Regions from separate parts of the Homo sapiens genome. Here region 2 is linked to region 1. The links come from fine-mapping of genetic effects on gene expression. A gene starts in region 1. The other region holds a variant in brackets. All regions are shown on one strand. Distances are between the middles of the regions.

What was found. PIP is the estimated chance that this variant, and not a neighbour inherited with it, causes the effect.
Region 2: its variant is fine-mapped to the expression of PRSS3 in hypothalamus (GTEx, PIP above 0.99).

Annotation. Positions count from the first base shown.
Region 1 is chr9:33,790,517-33,801,657 of GRCh38, forward strand. It overlaps PRSS3 (serine protease 3), which reads left to right and starts at 5,045. Exons shown (of 5, transcript NM_002771.4): 1 at 5,045-5,097; 2 at 6,127-6,286; 3 at 7,313-7,566; 4 at 7,970-8,106; 5 at 8,512-8,715. The coding sequence starts at 5,058. The coding sequence ends at 8,664. UBE2R2-AS1 (UBE2R2 antisense RNA 1) reads right to left here. Exons shown (of 5, transcript NR_170204.1): 2 at 9,267-9,397; 3 at 7,852-8,036. RefSeq lists an enhancer at 5,594-6,094.
Region 2 is chr9:33,752,833-33,763,973 of GRCh38, forward strand. All of the region lies in intron 3 of UBE2R2-AS1 (UBE2R2 antisense RNA 1), which reads right to left. It also overlaps a transcript of PRSS3 not described here. Among named protein-coding and RNA genes, the nearest start is that of PRSS3, 37 kb to the right of the region's middle. RefSeq lists a silencer at 10,886-11,086. The variant A/G (reference allele first, on the strand shown) is at 6,533.

The sequences.
Region 1 (11,141 bases):
ATGGCTGGTCCTTTTTATTCAGGTGTTAACTTAAATGCCACCTCCCCAAAGAGACCCTTCCACTCTACGTAAAAGCACTTCAGCAGTCATCCCATATTATATTATCACTTTATCCTATTTTACTAATATATACTCATCATTTACTGAAAGCGATGTATGTGCATCCCATTTCTATACCTCCTCACATGTGCATAAATGCATGCACGTGTACTCACAAATGCACTGAAACAAGAACCTTTTCTATCTTCTTCATTGCTGCTTCCAAATAGCCTAGAAGAACTCCTGGAATATCACTCCAGGAATTCAATAAATATTTGTGAGTAAATAAATATGATTTCAAAGAAAAGAGGAAAATTTATACAGCTGCAGTGGATTTCCCTGGAGGAAAACTCTACAAAGGCATTTGAGTTTAGATAATCTAAGCCCATAAGAAAATTAACTAGATTATTCTAACAGGAAAGGAATAAGCACTTCAAACTTTATATTTTTTATTCTTGTTTCAAATTTATGTTTTAGTTGCGGGGAGGATAGGAAAAGATTAAAGGACACAAAATTACAGCTAGATAGGAGGAATAACTTCCAGTGTTTTACAGAACTGTAGGAAGACTACAGATAACAAGCTTTGTATTTGAATAGAAAGGTACACATGTCATGTGCCAATCCCCTTCTGCTGCCTTACCCAAGACTGGGAAATGGAACAGATGATATGGGTTCTACAGAGAAGCAAAGTGCAGAACCTGCTCAAACACAGTGGCTCTGGGGTGGAAGGTTCTCAATTGGAATTGTGCTGGTGCCTGTGTGGATGGAGCACTCAGTTCTGAGCCTTGGGAGCCTTTTGAAGGCCCTCCTGGCCAAGACGATCTTGAGGAAATGACTGACCCGTTGGCTGCCTTCCAAATGGATGACACAGTCTAGACTTTTATAAGCTAAATGAGTAGAAGGAACCCAGTTGACTGGATTTATCACCAAACCCAGCTTGTGAGCCTCAATTTAGAGCTAGTATAATTTAGAAAAATAAATACATACACCATATATTAAACTCTGAGTATCATGAAACAGATCCTAGATGTTACAATCATAAGAATCTATATGGGTGTTTCTCCTGCACTCTGTCCTGGCTTTCTTCTGCTTCCTGTCTAAGGGAGCCTGGACTCACTTAAGCAGCTCTAATAGGCCAAACAAGAGAGTGGTCAAGGAGTGGCTGAAATGTGAACAGAAAGACTCACCATTATATTACAGCAATCAATCTATCCTTAAAATAATTTAGGTTTAGTCTCAAGTGCTAGAGGCTTCCCCATTTACCCATACATGGAAGCCTGAAGAATAAACAGAACTATAAACTTCCCTCCGGGCATAAAACTTGCATGTCTTCCATGGCTTCAAGGTGGGGAGCAGCTGGGCAGGCAGAAGGAGGGGCAAGGGGCAGGCAAGAGGAGGGGCAGGAGGCAGGCAGGGAGGAATGGGCTACTCCATTTAGCTGATCAGCCTTGACCAGTTCATGCTCTGCGACTCCATATTACAAGTCAGACTTTTCTGGATCATACAGAGCACTCCCTTCACTCTCCAGATTCAGTGATTCCTGGGATGAGATAGTAACAAAAACAATTCCTTATTGGATAAAGCGAAATTGTGCCGTGGGGGAGATAAGAAGCTTAGAAAAAAAGAAAAATAATGGATGAGGAGAGGAGCTGGGAGTTTGGCGGGAAGACAGCCTAAAATCTGACAATCTGTTTGCAGAATGATAAAGGATGCTGGAACCCAAGGAGGAGTTGACTAAGAGCTTAGGAGAAAGATCTGGTGGGATTTGGAGAAGAAAGTGTTAAAAAAAAAAGAATTTGGAATCTGACACTTTTCAGACTACTATGAGGTCTGAAAGACTCATGTAGCAACGTGAAGAGGAACAAACTTTGTCTGAATAGGGAAGGTTCTAGTATGATCTTTGCTGGAGAAGTCATTTGAACTCTGAGTTTTAGATTGTTGATTTGTAAAAAGGAGAGAACAATATCTGCTGCCTACCACCTCAGTGAGGGTGCACCAAGGATCAGCTCAGAGGAGGCAAAGCAGAATGCCCTATGGCAGAGCATGGAGGCCCTAGAGTCAGACCACCATACTTACATCCCATCTTTAAAACCTACTGGCTGTGTGGCCTTGAGCAAGTCACTTTACCTCCAGAAAGCTCATTTAATCACCTGGAAAATGGGCAATCGCATAAGTGGTTGTAATGTAAAATGAAGAAAAAATTCTTAACTTATATGAGTTACATGCTGTATAGTAACATGGTATATAGTAAGCACACAGAATTGATTCACTGTTATCAAAATTGAAGGACAGTGGTTTGATGTGCTAAGCACTCAGTACAAGCCAGAAAGATGTCTTAGAGAAGAAGACAAAGAAATCTCTAGTTCAGGATGAAGAGTACCAAGAATGGCATGTCCTCCAAATTGAGCTTGGGCAGCTGGATCTGAACCTATCCTACACATCTGAGTCTACAGTATGAGGTAACAGTCTCCACCTATAGCTATCTTCTCTGCCTGTAAGGTCATTCCTTTTTGAAGAAAGCTGACCTCAGACTATACTGTGATCATTTAAGGAAGAGCGCAAAATACTGGAGAAGGCTAATCTTCAAGCTCTAGATACAGAAAATCCTCATATTCTTGGGTGTTCCTTTCAGACAGAGTCAGAGCCACAAGCACTGATCCAAAAATCCCGTTCTCCAAAAAAAGTTTCCATCTTCTGCCAAGGTTCACCTCCCTATTTAGTGCACACTGGTGTCTACAGTTGCTACAGCAAGAGCCTTTCCTTATCCTCTAAGGCAGGAGTTGTGTGAAGACCCCATGACAAGGGGACAAAATGAAACAACATGTTTAGGGGCAACACAGGAAAAACCCATATTATCAATGCTCCAAAACCTGGATACCTCAGGCTTGGCCAGTCATTTGTGAGCAGAGAGGTGTGTCATCTACATGGCAGTCATGGCCTGGATGGGTCTGGAACTGTGGCAAGGGAAGTCTCTGAGACAAGGTGCCAGGAGAAAGATGAATTCAATCATCTATTTCTGCCAGGAAGAAAAGCAGGAGGAAGGAATCAGATGCACAGTTTGTCCTCTGGGGACCTCTGCCTTGATCCTCAATAAATCTCCTTTTAGATGTCACCTGCAGCAATTCCCACAGTTCACAATGATCTCCATGGCTTCCGTTGGCCTTATGGTGAGCTCTGCCAAGATCTGTATTCTTGGGCAAGACAGAATCCTTCTGAATCTCAGTCTCTTCCTCTATAAATGGAAATAATTTTGCTCTGCACAAATCACAATTAGCATGTTTGTGGGAAGTCAAACTGTGAAACTCAGCATAACTGAAAAGCAATGTACCACTGTTGCTTATGTGAAAACTCTTGTAAAGCTGTCAGGCACCATGCACCATCTAAGTACAGCAGTGTTAGGTATGAGCCCATCAGTGATTAGAGGGGATGTGGGGTGGAGAGCGGGTCTCTGAGCAGTGGATCTCCTGGCTTTGGGGAAGCTGGCTCGTTGGCCATGCCAGGAGCTGAACCTGAAGGTACTCTGTGTGTCCTCTCAACTCCACGGGCCCCACATTCGCATTTTTTCCAATTCCCTCTGGTTTCCATTTGCTTCCTCCCTCTAGCCCCCTGGCCATGTCCGATCTCAACACGAAGTTTCTGAGCTTTTCTCATTTTGTTCACCATCTCCAGAACATCTCTGCTTCTTTTACTTTTCAAAGAATTTAAACTTGAACTCTGCTCACTCCTGCCCATCACCAACCTGAGCTCAGAGTTGCTGAGAAGGGAAAGCACCCTCATAAGGAAGCTCCTCCTTTCCTTACATCATTAGACTTGATCACAGACAGCATCTCCATCTCCACACTACTCTGGCCAGGTTGTGCCTCAGTCAATTACACAACTGTGTCTTAGTAGCCTTGGTAGGGCCCAAATCAGGATATTCTCTGGGAAGATTCACTTGATACTAAGCCCAGCATAATCTCACTGCATCTAAAATAGAAAATTCTAGACCCACCCCTCCACATCTTCTTATTGATCCCAATATGTGACCCATTTACCATGTGCTAAAATCTCTACCTACTGCTGATTCTCAGATCAGATGGTAACCCAGATTTACCATGGTCCAAACTCTGACATCTGATCAGGGGCATGTCATTCTGGTTCAGGCTGTCAGCCCTGAGCAGGTGAGTCAGTTTGCATCACCCTAAGTGCAGGTTGCCAGGACAACCGTGAGGCTGCATAAAAAGAACCTATGACAGGATGCACATGAGAGAGACAAGTGGCTTCACATTGAAGAAGGGGAGGAGTGCGCCATTGGTTTTCCATCCTCCAGATGCACTGAGTAAGCTCCTACCTAACCTGTGTCCCCTCCTTCTTTGAAACACTTCCCATCCTTTTAAGCCTTGGTAGGAAGGAGAGCCATCTGGAAGCCCAGAATCCTATGGAATGCTAAGTCTCCCTTCTCCTTACCCCTTAGTGTTGGAATTCTGGATACCCAAAGTCTTGGATTTGACCTTTGTGCACAGTGACTGCAAAGAAGCATATTCATATTCACAAAAATGAGCCTTAGATAAGACTTTCCTCCTCTCGTGGGGGCTCCAGGAAACTGAAAAGCCAAGCTTGTTACCAATGCTTGCCCTTCCTTAAGTACATTATTAAATACATCCCCAATAGTTAAAAGGACTCCTAGACACCCAGGCCATTCTCCCTCCTTCTAACCCTCATCTCCTCGGCCTACGAAAGCCCAGCTGTGTGATCCGGGGATTGGTTTCCCCTGTCTTCCCCATCCCAGCATCCTTCCAGGAAATAGCCAGTCTCCCTCTCTGCTCTCAGAAGGCAAGTTTCCTTATCACCTGTGAATCACAAACCCACAGAGTGGCCAAACGTAGCCGAGCTGATGCAAGACCCTGGCAAGGGGAAAGCTGCAGGTGTGTTTGTGCTGGGAAGAACTGTGACCCTCACCTCACAGACACCTCCTCTCCTGATTCTTGGAAGGGTATAAGGACAGGCCTTCCACCACCAGTCAGGCACACTCTACCACCATGAATCCATTCCTGATCCTTGCCTTTGTGGGAGCTGCTGGCGAGTTTCATGACCTGCCTCAGGCCCCACCCACCCCCTTTCCTGGCAGACACATGCCCTGCCATTCTTGCCACCTCTCCTCTTTTGACTGCGCTCTGATATTCTATTTCCTCCATCTGACATATCTCCTTCCCATCCTCCTTGGGCTCTCTTTAAGCCTCACCTGTTTCACCTTTTCCCTCATTTCACTCCCACCACTGTCATTCATCCATATCCGAGCTGTGGTTGGAGAAGCTGGGAAGGGAGACCAGGTGGGGCTGGCCCATGAAATGAAGTGGCAGGCTTCAGGCTTGGCTCCAAGAGCACCAGTATAGCACCACTATAGCTGCTCTTAACCTCGAATGCACCTGGGGAGGTTCAAAAATTACTCATGCCAGAGATTCAACTCTAGAAGTTCTAACTTCATTTGTCTGGGGTGCAGCCTGTGTACTGGGCTTTTAAGCTTCCCAGGTGATTTTTAACGTTTCCAGGCATGCCGCCAAAGTTAAGAATTGCTCTTCTATTGGCCAATAACAAAGTCTACCTTTGTTATGCCAAAGTGAGCCTGGGGCTGCCCTCAACTCTGCCCTCACTGCACAGATCTGAGCTATGGGGGAAGCTAGTCATGGCCAGGTCTACCCAGACAGGGGGTTTTCCTAGCTTAGCCAAAGTATCCTGACAATCCAGGGCTCAAATAGCCAGGGCAAGTACACAGGTGATGAATAAAAGAGAGAAGCACTCAGTGGGTGAGACAACAACATACCAACTGCTACCCCACTGGAAGCATTTTGAGGACATTCCTTGCATCCTCAGCCTGGTGTCCCCAGGAGAGATCTGAGCCCCTGCAGGGTACCTAGCTACGTGCCCTGCAGACACAGAGACTTGGGAGCCACATCCAGTGATGCTCACCAGGGGTGGCAGCGCTCCCTCCCTTGCCTGGCCTCACTGGGCTTGTTAAGGATTTCTAATTGGCAGGAAGCAACCGCAGGCTGGGAGCACCACCCCTAACATGCTACTGACTTGCCTTCTCCCTTCCTATTTCCACTCCAGTTGCTGTCCCCTTTGACGATGATGACAAGATTGTTGGGGGCTACACCTGTGAGGAGAATTCTCTCCCCTACCAGGTGTCCCTGAATTCTGGCTCCCACTTCTGCGGTGGCTCCCTCATCAGCGAACAGTGGGTGGTATCAGCAGCTCACTGCTACAAGACGTAAGTGTGGGGCCCCTGACTGCAAAGCTCCCAGCCAGGCTGCCTGGGAGAGCTTGGCTTCAGCCCAGGGAAGTACTGAGGTTGGGTAAGACGGATGGGAGAGGTGGTGGAAAAGAAAACTTGTTGACAGCAGCTGACTCTCCAGAGCAAGGCCAATCCATGAAACAGCAAGGGTTGTGGTCATAAAAGCAGGCAGGGATAATCTTGGAGTTGTCAGAGCTAGTGACAAAAGCAGGCAAGTACCTTTTGCTGGTTAGCTACACATTAAAGCGACCTAAGACAGAGTTTTTGAAAATACTGATGCCTGTGTCCTACCCCAGGGCAATTAACTCAAACTTCTCAGGAAGACAGTGTGAATACCAGTGAGTATTTAACACTCTACCTCTGGTAACTGTAGAGTGTATAGACAGAGCTGAGAACCGCTGCCTACACGAAGAACTCTCAAACCTGAGTATGCGTCAAAACCACCTGCAGGCTTATTAAAGCACAAATCACTGGGTCCCATCCCCAAGGTTCTGATCAGCGGGTGGGGGTAAGGACCAAGAATTTACATTTCTAACAAGTTCCCAGGAGATGCTAATGCTATGGCTACCCTTGGATTAGATTACACAGAAGGGTGGTGCTCACTAGGCCAAGAAGGGAGGGAGGAACAGGCGCTGTGCGCAGTTAGCAAAGACCTGGGGTGAAGAATGCTGGGAAAACTACGAGGAGCTCTTTGTGCCCACAGTGCTAGTGACTGTGGAGATTTGTGGGAAAGAGGCTGGGAAGGCAGGTTGAGGAGCAGCCTCTGGTGGGATCCCTTTGACTCTTCCCCACCCCACTACCACCAGCCTCTGAAGCAGAAAGGTCCTGGGTCTCACACCTGCACTGACCCACATCCCTCTCCTGCCCATGCAATATGGCCACACACCCCACCCCATGCCTCCAGAGCTATCCATGAGCAGTGAGCTTGAGGACCCTGGGGAAGGTGGGAGGGGTGCCCAGGCTGTGGGAGAAGGTCTTCACCATGCCTGCCCTGCCCATCAGCCGCATCCAGGTGAGACTGGGAGAGCACAACATCAAAGTCCTGGAGGGGAATGAGCAGTTCATCAATGCGGCCAAGATCATCCGCCACCCTAAATACAACAGGGACACTCTGGACAATGACATCATGCTGATCAAACTCTCCTCACCTGCCGTCATCAATGCCCGCGTGTCCACCATCTCTCTGCCCACCACCCCTCCAGCTGCTGGCACTGAGTGCCTCATCTCCGGCTGGGGCAACACTCTGAGCTTTGGTGGTGAGTGGGACCCTTTGTCCTTCTACTTCCCCCCATCCTCACAATTTCCAGAACGAAGCATGCCCCTTTATTTGAATCCTCTTGCCTCCCGGCTTAAGACACATTTCTAGTGCCCATTACACACAGTCTCTGCACTGGGCACCAGAGAGATGCAAAGTCTCAAGGACTTGGCTCCTAAAATCAAGAGATAGGACAAATGGAGAACTTGCTGTGATCACGTCTTGGGAGGGGTTCAACAATGATCATTCTGGAAACTAAAAGCCAGAGTCCCTTGCCAGAACTTACGTTTTGGAGTCCTCTCCAGAGGCAGTGTTCCTCTTCAATGTTCCATCCCAGATTATTGTCTCCTTCTCTGGCCTCACCCACATTTCTACTTTCTTTGATCTCTTCCTGATCCTCACAGCTGACTACCCAGACGAGCTGAAGTGCCTGGATGCTCCGGTGCTGACCCAGGCTGAGTGTAAAGCCTCCTACCCTGGAAAGATTACCAACAGCATGTTCTGTGTGGGCTTCCTTGAGGGAGGCAAGGATTCCTGCCAGGTGATTTGACCCTTTCCCATGCTGAGGCTCCCACCGATACCCAGGCCCCACCGGGGAAAAAGATTTGAACTCCCAAGGTGGCAGGGCTGAGGCGGCTCCCTGCAGTGCTCCCATGGAGAAATGAGGAAGGTGGCGGGGCTGAGGCGGCTCCCTGCATTGCCCCCATGGAGAAACGAGGAAGGTGGCGGGGCTGAGGAGGCTCCCTGCAGTGCCCCCATTGGGAAATGAGGGAGGCTCCCTTGTGCTGCACGCTGCCTGCTTAGGAAGAACAGAGAATGGGCCACCGTGGGAAGGACGTGGAGCCACAGAGCTGGCTGGAAAGGGGTCTTTTAAGGTTCACAGTAAATGTAGCTATATTCCTCCTCCATCTCTCTCTTTATACAACTTGTCCCTTCTTCTCCCCAGCGTGACTCTGGTGGCCCTGTGGTCTGCAACGGACAGCTCCAAGGAGTTGTCTCCTGGGGCCATGGCTGTGCCTGGAAGAACAGGCCTGGAGTCTACACCAAGGTCTACAACTATGTGGACTGGATTAAGGACACCATCGCTGCCAACAGCTAAAGCCCCCGGTCCCTCTGCAGTCTCTATACCAATAAAGTGGCCCTGCTCTCACTCTGTGTCTGTGCCGGCTCCCTCACACTCCTTCACACTGGAAAGCATCCTCCAATCTCAGGTCAGACAGGGCTGTCCCCCTGAAGGGTAAGCAGAGCCGCCAGCTCCCAAAATGTGTTCCATGGTACACTAGAGTAGCATATACAAAGAGATGGAATCCAAAAATAATACGAAGCTTAGGACAAAAGGGGCACTGTTTTCTAGAGAAAAGTGTTTCAGAAAGGTGGTCTTTGGGTGGGTGGTATTGATTTTTCTTTGGGCTTCTCACAGTGGTTAGAGCTACTCTGCCTTCGAACAATCACAGCACAGAAAATGTGTCAGCATCTTCGAGGTGGCCCAAAAAATCTGACGAGCTGAATCTTATTGCTAAAATACAACAATCATGACAAATGCTGTTGGTGATGACATGCCTCTCCCAAGAATGTGTCAGCACCAAGCCCTCCCTTCTCATTCACCTGGAAAATCAGACTCAAGTAAATCTCCCTGGCCCCCTAACTCTTCCCTCAATTCCCTAGTTCCATCTCTGTGAGCAGGCTAGAGAGATGTTCCACCTACCATAGCGGGAGCCCGACTGCGACTTGGGAATCAAGCCCAGCACTGCACGCTGCATTTTCATCTTCTTTGCCTTTGTGGTAGGACGCTGCAGTGAATCCCACAGCTAACACCAGCTCCCCACTCTGACCTGGGATAGAAATTAGAGAGGGTCAAGATTCACCCATTTGATCAATTAACTGAGGAAGGATTCATTTTCATAAAACTTGCTCACCTTTGAGACACTTCAAGTGAGTTATTTGGGACTCTTTTAAAAACGTGGAAGGAAAGACATCTGAGGGCTGTGACACCATCCAGCCACTCTGGCCACACGTTGGCTGGCTTGCATCCACTGCACGCAGCAGAGGAGGGCAGGCCCCGTGACACCTGTGACACCTGCCAAAGCCTCCTCCTGGCAATTCTGAGAGGGCCCATGTTAGGGATGTAGCTCATCCAAGCTTGTCACTGAAGATCCAAGCAAGCTTCTCTTTGAAATTCCACCTTTACCTTCTGTCCCAAGTGGTTGTGGACACCCATGGGAGCTGGTACCAAGGGCCAGGAGCAGCCAAGGGAGACAGACAAGTTCAGAGCACATTTCCAGTTACAGGGAACAGAGCACAGGCCTCCAAGTGTCCATGGAGCAGCATGCAAATTGCAGTGAGGAGTAGAGGAAAACCTCTACATGGAGCACAGCATTCCTGGCAAACACAGGGGACCGCAGTCCACATGCTGTGGAATATACCCAAGTATGCATCAGACACTTGTTTGGTGAACAGTAAATGTGTAAGATCAATTACCTTGAGAGGGCCATCTGTGCTCCACATGTGTGGTTCGTGTGAGGAGATGGCTACCACTCACTATCTTCCGAGGGAAACAGGGCTCAGGGCTTGCACACGATGGACAGATACACACGGGTCACCCAGAATGTCACTGCATACAAACATCACTTTGTTCAACATGGATTTTGTTTTCATGGAGTCCAAACGCAGACCCTAGTTCACCTTACGGCCTTGGGTTTGTCTGCTTTTGGAGCTATATATCCAGTAGATAGATAGACAGACAAGACAGATACATTTTCTCCCTTTCTTACCATAATGTCAATGCCTCGTCTGAATCTCATCATCACTCAAGAGTCAAGAGAGGAACCAAATGCTTCATATAAACAGGGCTGGGCGGGGAGCGTTAGTTTTCACTGTTTTCTGTCTCCATTCAGATCATTCCTATCAAAGCCCAGCTGGTTATCTGAAGCCAAGAGACAGACATAAGGATCCCAATGGCCTTCCAGATGGCTGCTTCCACCTCCTACCTGGGCTACTCAAACTCTTTATACAGGAAAGTGAGTCACCCCACTCAGAAGGGTTGCCAGCAGAAACAGGGCATGAAAATCACAGATAACCATGGGATTTGTTCCAAGTGGTCAGTGTGAAATAAACCACCACCACCACCACCACCAAAAACACAAAACAAGCAAAAAAAAAAAAAAAAAAATTAAATTAAATTTAAAAAAAAAAAGGCTTTTTCAAAATCCAAGACAAAATACTGTGTGAGAGCCAGGCCATGGCATTGCCTTTTCTCAGGCCACACAGCTTTCCCAGTCCATTTGCTCACATGGAACTGTGAGACGTGAAGGTCTGCAGAGCGTGTGCTGGGGATGGAGGCTGGTACTGTTCACCTGTGGGTCCATGCCAAAGGGCAAAGAGGCAGAAAGCTACAACTCTGTCCACCACCACGGCTTAGGCCTCCTGCTCACAGAGGCTCTGAAGAGCCCCCACCTCAGCCTTCACACAAAATATCTCCTTCTGGCTCAACTACAGCCAGGCTGGAATGCCATGGCATGATCTCTGCTCACTATAACCTCCGCCTCCAGGGCTCAAGTGATTCAGCCTCCCAAGTAG
Region 2 (11,141 bases), 38 kb before region 1:
TGTATGTGATGCAGAGTTCAACTGAATATAGCAAGGTACACACCTGCATTCTCCTTGCCAGGACTTAGATATCATAAGCCATTATCTTGCTGGTTGTTGAAATCGTAATGGGGCTTTATAGAGCACAAGGCGATGTTTGTAAACAGCACTGTTCAGGCAAGATTAGAATCCGTATTTCAAAAATGAGGAGATGGAAACAGAGATATTGTGTATGTGGTCCAGGGTTAGCCAGGAATTAAATGGCAGAGCCGGAGCTCAAACCAGCATTCCTTCCAGAATACCACAGCTGCCTCTGGAGTGGTTTTTGTTGTTCTTGTTGAATTTTGTGATGGAAGATTGTGATTTGTTTTTCCTGAACACTTAATATGTTTTCTGACTTGAACTGTCAGAATCTAAATTTAGAAACTCTCATTTGGTATATTTCATGTCCATCTTTGTTCCATATAATTACAAAAATATCTTAGAGCTGGGTATAACCTTAAAGATTGTCAAGTCCAATCTTGTGGTTTTTCAAAGAAAAAAAACGGATTTAAAAAAATAAAGCAAGTACCTCATGTTGCTTCCCCAAATCTACTTCATTGGAGAATTACAGCTAAAAGCAATGTTCAGATTATTGCTCCTTCTGTCATGTGGTCTCTTGAGAATTTGCCAAATGTATAAATCCAGTGACTTATTTTGATGTACTCTTTTGGTTTGAGGTCTGTGACAGCAAACATAACCTCCCTGAATCCCAGCCTGAAATGCCTATGTACCTTCTGTTCTAACTGTAGCCGTTATTATAGTGGCTAAAGTTCTAACTTCTGTTCTAACTGTTCTCCTGGTTCCATGACAAACAGAGCTTTACTTGTCTTATTCCTAGCACAGTGCCCATAGCAGGCATACATAAAATGTGGTCAGTATGTCAGATAAACATCTGAAAAAGTATGACATGTCATTAGAAGTTCATTCAGCTACAAGAACAGAAAACCCTACTACAACGGCTTAAACAAGTAAGGAGTTTGTTTTTCTCAGAGAAGGAGAAGTCTGGAGGTGAGAAGCCTGAGGCTGGGAAAGGGGTTCCGATATGAACTCATCTGAGACAGGTTCCTTGTGTCTTCCCGCACCACCCTCCTTAGCATGGAGCTCTCATCCTCACTTCCCCAAGTTGCAGCAGAAAGACGGGCAGAGGCATGCTCCAGAAGAGTCTTGTCTTGTCTTGTCTTTTTTTTTCTTTTCTTTTCTCTCTTCTTTTCTTTTCTTTTCTCTCTCTGTCTCTCTCTCGTCTCTTTCTTTCTTTTGAGATGGAGTCTCACTCAGTGGCACAATCTCAGCTCACTGCAACCTCCGCTTCCCAGGGTTCAAGTGATTCTCTTGCCTCAGCCTCCAAGTAGCTGGGATTACAGGCGTGCACCACCACGCCCAGCTAATTTTTGTATTTTTAGTAGAGACGGGGTTTCACCATGTTGGTCAGGCTGGTCTTGAACTCCTGACCTTGTGATCTGCCCCCCTCGGCCTCCCAAAGTGCTGAGATTACAGATGTGAGCCGCCGCGCCTGGCTTGTCCTTCTTTATAATAAATAATAATAATAATAGCTTTTCTGGTAGCCCACCCCAAAAGACTTCTTACATGTCATTGGCCAGAACCATATCACATACACACTATTAAAGGTGAGGGAACCTGAGAGAATCTAGTGTTTTAGACGGACACGATGCCAATACATCAAAGTAAGAATTTTGGGCCAGGCACAGTGGCTCACGCCTGTAATTCTAGCACTTTGGGAGGTCAAGGCGGGTGGATCACCTGAGGTCAGGAGTTCAAGACCAGCCTGGCCAACATGGTGAAACCCCATCTCTACTAAAAACACAAAAAATCAGCCAGGCATGCTAGCAGGTGCCTATAGTCCCAGCTACTCAGGAGGCTGAGGCAGGAGAATCGCTTGAACCCAGGAGGCAGAGGTTGCAGTGAGCCGAAATCATGCCACTTGCTCTCCAGCCTGGACAACAAGAGCAAAACTCCATCTCAAAAAATAGTAATAATAACAAAATAGGAATTTTGTTAATAAGGCAGGGGGGAGAATGAACATTGGGTAGGCAGCTAGCAGCATCTGCCATAGTGTGTTTTATGAGTCGTAGATCCTATCTCTAAATAGGTTGTTATTTGTTTTGGTTTTTTGTTTGTTTTACTAAAAAGCAATGGGTAATGCAGTGGGTCTAGAGGAACTTTTTTAAATGGTAGAGTGCAAGGACCACTCTGAGAACTGCTGATGATGTAGGTCTGGGCTGGGTCTATAAATCTCCATTCCGGACGGGCACGCCAGGTCATCTGAGGGCAGGTGGTTGCGGGAATACATTTTGAGAAACACCGAATGTCGGGTAGTTTAGCAGAAGTGCCTTTATTTTATTTCCGTTAGCTTTTTGCCTCACTCCTCTTGAGGATATTACTTTATTTTTTAATTTTCTACTTTGGTCAACATAAATCAATGTATAGCCTTAGAAGTCGTTCATTGTAGAAGGTTTTTATTGAGTTTATACTGAGTATAGAACCCTAGTGGCAATTACTTTCAATGCTTTGGGTTGTGTTTTTCTGATATTACCATATCCTAAATAGCATGCAAATACGGGCCATTTCTTCTTCTCTTTTCCAGTTCTGGGTAACATCTATTGACATCCTACCAAGAAGGATGACGGTTTGCTCCTTTACACCCCCACCCTCCCTCTCACCTTCACATCCCTTTCTTTTAAGTTCCCAATACGGTTATATCCTAAATTTTTGATATGTCAATGTTTGGTGTGTATATTATTCCCAACTAAGGCACATGACACACCATGATCTTTACATTCCCCTTCTTGACCAGTCTTTCCCCCCACCCCATGGAATGGGGTGTAGGAATTGCTACATTTTCTTTAGTTGTTTGTTTGAGAACTCATCTCCAAGAACTCATTTCCTGGAGCCAAGGAAACTCATGGGGGCCCTCTGAGTGCTACTAATTGCATGGAGCTGTTGAGTGGGGAGGAAAAGCCAGGCTGCCATCAAGAAGCATTTGGGGTAAATTTTCTAAGCACATCTGAAAAGACAGAGTCTAGAACCTCCACGGTCCCTGTCTGTTGTGATTTATTTTCTCATTCTAAATACATACATACATACGCACTTTTTTTTCTGTCTAGGCCATCTCTTGTGGAATACATATGTACTTTCATACCCAATTATGTACAGTTTTTGTAATTTTACGCCTTTTTCTTAAAGAAGGCTCCCAAAAGTGTCTAAGATTCAGGCCCCATAAGAGGCGGTTGCTTTTTGAGCTTGTGCCCATTTAAGATGTCACTTTTCTTCCTTCACACTTGATTGCTGGTTTGGCTGGGTATGGGATATTAATCAGAAATCATTTCCTGTCCGAATTTTGAAAACATTGCTCTATTTTATTCTATTTTCTTATGGTGCTGTTGAGAAGCTGATGCCATTCTAATTCCTGATCCCTTGTATTTTGTTTTAATCTCTGGGCATTTGTAGGGTTTTCTTTGTTGTTCATATTCTGATATTTCATGATGCTGTTATTTAATGTTGGGGTGGGGTTTTTTGGCAGGGAGATACAGGGAGGTATCAGTCACTGTCCTAGGTATTTTATAGGTCTTTTCAATCCAAAAATTACATTCTTCGGTTCTGAGTGGTTTTCTTCTGTTATATAATTTTCTCGTTCTTTCTTTCTGAAACTTAAATTACTTAGACTGAATCTGAAAATGGGATCTCTTGGATTTGTCTTGTGATTTTATCTTTTTTATTTTAAAAAAATCCCATGTTTTTTAGTTCTAATAAATCTTCCAACACTGCTATTAAATGTTTACATTCTACCATTACATTTTTAATTATCAGGAGCTTTTATTGGCGAGAGGTGTGGTCTTCTAAATGGTTTTTACAGTATCCTGTTCTCATTTCATGAATGCAGTATCTTCTCTTATTTCTCTGAGAATATTAACTCAGTACTTTTTCTACATTTTAAAAGTTTTCTTCAGCTACCTACAATGTCTGTGTCTATTTTCAAAGTGACTTTTAATGTTGCTTTTGGCCTGCCTTTCATGTTGGAAGTTTTATACATGTTTAGGGATGCTGTGCGTCATCTGTGAGCATGGTTTGTAAGTTGGCTGGCTTCATTGTAGGGTGGTTAGGCAGAGAAAGCCTTCTTGATGGCTTATCGCCTGTCTCTAGTGCTTTCTAGTACATATAATGGGTTTCTCTGTAGAAAGATCTCATTTCTAGCCATTTATTCCTGTTTGAGAAAAGTCACATAATAACTTAGATGTATTTATTATGTCATCTGCTTAACAGCAGAGGTTCTTGTTGTAAGGTGGATAGGTGGAGGTCTAGGATTCAAAATGGGAAATGTGTCCTTGACTCTGCCTCCACTTTGAAGTTGCTGATGTTCTCCACATTTTCTTTTCTATTGAAAAAGCTCTGAGATACCAAGGAATGAAAACTCTTTGAATACATGTACAACTAATTTACTTTTTGATAACCATTTGCAAAATATCGATTATATTGGGAAAACATTTTTCTAATACCTCTAGAATTTGGGACAGAATTTCTGCCCTTGAAGGTAACCCTCCAAATCCATGCAATTTTTCCCTTGTACAGCCCCACAGTGATCATCAAAACTTGGAGCAGATTCATCTTTTTTTTTTTTTTTCCCTGGGAAAGGTTTAGATCACGTGAAGGGAACAGATACTACGTTTGATAGGAATGGTTCCTGCTTTAGCTTCCTAAGGCCTCTCACTTGGAAAGCCTGCCCATTAGACCCTGGATTTTTTGCTGTTAGCTTTTCCTTCTTAGGCGACTTCAACAAAGACTGCAAACTCCCTGACAGCACGGGCCCAGGCTTGTCACCTCTGCAACTCCATCACCCAGAATAGTGCCTTATGCATAATAGGCACTTGATAAATGTTAGTTGACTTAAATTGACCCTATTATCTGTTTTAAACTAGCCCTTCCTACCTGTCCCCTTGCTATTTCCTCTGTTTCTCTTACGTCTTTTTATGTCACCACCTCTTGGATGATGCTACCTCATTCTCAAATCTGATGGTATGGAATAGCTATAAGAAAACAAACTTGAAAGATATCTAACTACTAGGACTCTAAGTCGAATTTCCAGGATTCAAAACTCCCATATCACCTTACTAAATATCTAATTATTTCTTAGGTTATCACCAACCACCCTGCATCGAGTCCCTCCTGAGCCACAGTTCAGTTTGGATTATTTTTTTCCTCATGTTCCATCCCTTGACTGTAGTGCCCTTCCCTTCCTTCCAGTGTCTTTGATCGGCCTCTACTTTGATCCAGAGCTTCTCTTTGATCTGTTCTAATGGTCATTTTTCTGCCTCCTCCCCTACATTGATCTACAATCTGGCATATTTTATACATTATACAAAGCACATTGTTATGCTGATTTCAGAATACCTACCTGTCAATCAGACAGACATCTTTTCAAACCTAACTCAGACCCATGATGAAAGTCTCTCTCTTCTGGCCATTACTGAGATAGCTCCTGCTCTGGTCTCACTGGGGCTGTTTATTTCTCTATGGGAGGCTTTAGAACAGTAACTAAACTACAGTGCAAAACAGTGATCTGTAGATTAGTGTTTCTTAATCATCAGCACTAACAATAGAATCTAAACTCCCAGGGACCTGGAGACTTGGCTGAGAACAGCCTGACATAAGTGCAGTCTCTCTTAATACTAAAAAATTTATGCTACCCCAAAATATGTCTGTATCTGTTTTCAAATGAAAATCATTTTTCCAGAATCTTCAGGTGAAATTGATACTCCAGGATTATGTTCATCTTGTGATTTCAGATATCATCTGGGGGGAGAGGATTCGCACATATGCTAGTCTGTGAGATACAGTAGTAGAAATCAAAGGACTTACCTAGCTCTAAGAACTGTACGAAAATAGTGATGGTACCAACAATTTTACCAATGGCTAGATTTAGGAGATGGTGTTCTCTTGATTCAAGATTAAGGCTAAGCTCATCAGTTCAGTTCAGTTTAAGAACTATTATTATATATCAAGCTTGTGCTAGTTTATGATGGAGATGATAAGGTCTCTGCTCTTGAAGATTCTGTAGACTAATGGGCAAGACATATGTCACTATATAATTTTAATATAACATGGTAAGTGATAAAAATCATGGTATGTATAAGGTCCTTTGAAAACACACAGGTGGGGCACTTAGCCCAGCCTGGAGACTCACAGAGGCTTCCTGCAGGAGATAAGGCCTAAAAACAGAAACCAAGTAAGAGGAATGAAAAGGACATGCAATTTAGAGGGGACAACATCAGCAAAGGGGACACTGTCAGGTTCACGGTGGGAAGAATTGGGAGGTGACGCTGGAGAGGAGCCACATTCAGGTATACACAATGCAAGGGGATGTGGACCCCTCCACAGGCTGCTGGTTAGCCAATGGAACATTTTCCATCCTCCAGTAGGGTAGTCAGATATACACGGAAGGTGGATGACTGGCTGCGGGGTGGAAGAAGAATTCATGGACAGCAGGACTAGAGGCCTC[A/G]CAGTGTTTAGGAAAAAGACAATGAGAGCCCAAATGAGATCATTGCTGCAGGCACAGAAGGGAAAGAGAAAATACCAGGATACTTGGGGAAGCAAATTTAGCAGAATTTTGGTGTCTTTGGGGGCAATGGTGAGGGGAGAAGAGTCCAGAATGGCTCCCAGGATTCTGGCTTTCTGGGTGACTGGACGTTAAGCCATCACCCAAGTTTGGGATATGAGAAGAGAAGCCGATTTGGTGGGGAAAAAAGATGGTGAATTCAGTCTTGGACATACTGACTTGAGGTGTCTAAGAAACATCTGTATGTTTATGTGCATGTCTGTCTATTCAGCAGGTTGTTGGATCTATGAGTCTGAGACTTAGAGACAAGGTCAGAGCTAGAGATGAAGTTGTGGGAGTCACCAGTGTGCAAGTGGTGATTAATCCATGGGTGTGCATGAGAGTTCTTGCAAGGGGAAGAGGAAACGGAAGTAAGGGCTTATGCAAGGAGGATTGTTGAGTAAAGTGGAAGGCCCAGCCTCTGCCTGCTCACTAATGTCAGTGCTGAACAAGCCCACTGGCAGTGGATGCTGAGGGAAGGAAGGAAGGAGTCTGTCTGTAAGCTTGAGCACTTTTTCCAAGAGGTGGAGAAGGCAGAGAGCCCAAGCCTTGAAGAAATGTTCCTTAGTGGCCTGGCATCTCGGAAATTTGACTCCATGACTTTGGAGTGATCTTTCCATTATTATTTTCCTTGAGCACCCAGAAAGAGAATTCTGAACTAAATGTATTCTTTCACATGGCTGAGTTAAGGATAGTGTTAATTACTGAAATATATGTAAGGTTTTTTTTTTTTTTTTGGTTGTTTGAAAACTAAGCCCACCTTTGAAGTCCAGAGATGTCCTTTCACTCTAATGTATGCTGAGGTGGCAACTGGTAACTGCTTCTTTGTAGGTAATAGCCATAGCCTTAGTTTCATCCTCCTTTCTCCATGACTAAAACTTGCTCCAACTTCTGCATTTCGTTTTTATGATGTATTAATGAGGAGCAAAGACATAAAGGGGTTTCAGAATTTGGAAGAGCCATGGAGAGTCCCTCTTCCAAACTCCCTATTTAACAAATAAAGAGGCCGGGTGCGGTGGCTCACGCCTGTAATCCCAGCACTTTGGGAGGCCGACGCTGGTGGATCATGAGGTCAGGAGATCGAGACCATCCTGGCTAACACAGTGAAACCCCATCTCTACTAAAAATACAAAAAATTAGCTGGGTGTGGTGGCGGGCGTCTATAGTCCCAGCTACTCGGGAGGCTGAGGCCAGAGAATGCCGTGAACCCAGAAGGTGGAGGTTGCAGTGAGCCGAGATCATGCCACTGCACTCCAGTCTGGGGGACACAGCAAGACTCTGTCACAAAAAAAAAAAAAAAAAAAAATTAGGACCCTGAGAGGCTATGTGTCTTGCTCAAGGTCACAGAGTGAATTCCTAGCAGCATTCAGGCTAGGACCCAGGTATTCTGACTCAGTGGCCAGTGTTCTTGTTAGATAGTGAGAAAATAGAATTTAGTCCAATTTGTTTTTCAATCTCGAATTCAGGATCCAGCAAAACTGCCTAATTTTCATGACAGTTTGAAGAAAGGCCCAAATCAAATGCCTCCCCCTCTGTGAGGCCTACCCAGTTTCTCAGGTGAGAGTTACCCACTTTGTGTGCTATGCGCTAGGACTGCTACCAGTACGTCCCAGGACAATCAGTCTTTCACAAGTATTGTCATGTGGCACTTAACGACAGGGACATGTTCTGAGAAATGGGTTGTTAGGCGATTTTGTTGTGTGGACATCCTAGAGTGTACTTATACAAACCCAAATGGCATAGCCTACTACACATCTAGGCTATGCGGTGTATACTGTCAGTACTGAGCATACGCACTGTTAGCAGATGCTGAAGGGAGTCTGTAGGCGTGAGCGCTTTTTCCAAGAATTGACTTCAAACCTGTACAGCACGTTACTGTACCACACACTGTAGGCAGTTATAGCACAGTGGTAAGTATGTGTGTATCTAAACATGGAAAACATGCATTAAACATACGGTATTATGGCCAGGTGCAGTGGCTTACACCTGTAATCCCAGCACTTTGGGAGGTGGAGGCGGGCAGATCATGTGAGGTTGGGAGTTCGAGACCAGCCTGACCAACATGGAGAAACCCTGCCTCTACTAAAATTACAAAATTAGCCAGGCGTGGTGGTGCATGCCTGTAATCCCAGCTACTGGGGAGGCTGAGACAGGAGAATAGCTTGAACCCGGGAGGTGGAGGTTGCCGTGAGCTGAGATCACGCCATTGCACTCTAGCCTGGACAACAAGAGCGAAACTCCGCCTCAAAAATAAAATAAAATAAAATAATTAGCCAAGCGTGGTGGTGCACACCTGTAGTCCCAGCTACTCAGGAAGCTGAGGCAGGAGGATCACTTGAACCCTGGGGACGGAGGTTGCAGTGAGTTGAGATCGTGCCACTGTACTCCAGCCTGGGTGACAGAGTGAGACCTTGTCTCAAAAAAAAGAAGAAAAAAAGGTATTATAATCTTATGGGGCCACCATCATACATGCCGTCTGTTATTAACCAAAATGGCATTATGCGGCACCTGACTGTATACAGCTCTCTACTAGATTATAAACTCCTTGCAGATAAAACTATTCATTTTATCATTATCCATTATATTATTTCCTTAGCACCCAGAAGAATCCTGTATTTAATTGGCTCATATGGAAAATTTTAGAAAGAGAGAGACATCGGGGCTCAGACTATCTTCCGATCAGGAACCAAAACGAGCTGGGAGGTAACAGAGTTCTTTTTCATAGTAATTGTGTTCCATATCATGGTGAAATCGTGCCAGAACAAGCTTCAGACTCTTTCTGGTCTTACTCCTTCTGACCGTGCTGTTCCAAAGAACTTCCCATACAGGAAATAACAATGATGGCAGTAGCTGTCAAATTCTAAAGACGGGGATAGACTCTGGACCTCCTCAGGCCCCTGAGCCCACTGTAGAGCAGGGACGTGACTTAACTGAAGTTCAGGACTGCGGCCACAGTCACATCCACCTGTGAGCAATGGAGGACTTTCAACACAGAACCCTCTGCATCCCCTGCATTCTGTTACTAAGCAGCTCATAGAACACGAAGAGGTATTAACCTTGTTATTTGCAGAGTTACAAAAAGCTGAGTCAGGTATTCCAAAGCAAACCCAGACCAGAAGCCACCTGAGAGTTCGTGCCGGCAAGGACAGATTCAGAATGTACAAAAACGATGAAAATAATATTCTGTGATCACCCTATAACCTACTTCCTTACTGACCAAACACATGTCTCATTCCCATTAAAAAGTTATGCTCAGCCACTGCCCTCTCTAGGATTATCTGATGTTAAACAGTAATTCTGCCCATTTAGGGTCAGCTACTCAAAAGCAAAGAACAGCAACTTTAGGTCAAAATATATTCTTCCAGGAGAGAAGCCCAAGTCTCTCCCCTATTATTGCGGGAATAGTGTACGAGCACCAGACTAGAGAGGAAGCTAACACTTATTAAACATGTATTCTAGTCAGCTGCTAGACATTTTCAGGTAAGCCTCACAGGACCCCTCCAAGGTGGTATTAATGTCCCTGTTTTAGAAGGAGGAGTACTGAGATTCAGAGACATTAGAGAACTTGTCCAAGGTCTTACCAGTAAAAGTGGCAAAACCAGGATTGAACTTAGGTCTGACACTACATAGTTCATATTCTATTATGTGACTATATTCCTCCTTAAAGGAAAATTTAGGAATTCGGTTTCCTTTAGGAAGATGTAGGAAATAGAATGTACTGAAACTAAGATAACAGTTGACTTAAGTCTTTTCTAACTCAGCCTTCCTCAGGCCCATGTGTGAGCTGGTTTCTATCCTTTCCCTGAGACTCTTGGGCACATAGGACCATAATGTCTGTTTGATTTTACTTTTAAGTATATTCTTTTGGTCAGTCCCAGTCTAACAAAATTTTAAGATTTAATGCATTCTATCCATGCAAGAGAATTACATGTGGTTTTGCTTGCTAAAGAAGGTGGAGGCCGGGCGTGGTGGCTCACGCCTGTAATCCCAGCACTTTGGGAGGCCGAGGCAGGCGGATCACGAGGTCAGGAGATCGAGACCATCCTGGCTAACACGGTGAAACCCCGTCTCTACTGAAAATATAAAAAATTAGCCGGGCGTGGTGGCGGGCACCTGTAATCCCAGCTACTTGGGAGGCTGAGGCAGGAGAATGGCGTGAACCCGGGAGGCGGAGCTTGCAGTGAGCAGAAATCGCGCCACTGCACTCCAGCCTGGGCGAAAGAGCGAGACTCTGTCTCAAAAAAAAAAAAAAAAAAAAGGTGGAAATGATATAGGGTAAAGAGAGTAAGTGACATTATCTAGTTCACTCCCACCATATGGACGATTGGCTGCAACTGCCTCTCAGCCTTTGCATGTGTTATTTGCTCTGACTAGAACTCTGCCCACACTACCTGACTAATGCCTGTGTGTTTTTCCAGGAAGCTTTCATGACACTACCCTCTATAATCTTTCTCCTATTTCCTCCAGGCTGAGTAAGAATCTTCCCTTTGTTTTCATTGTTATGAGTGTTGTC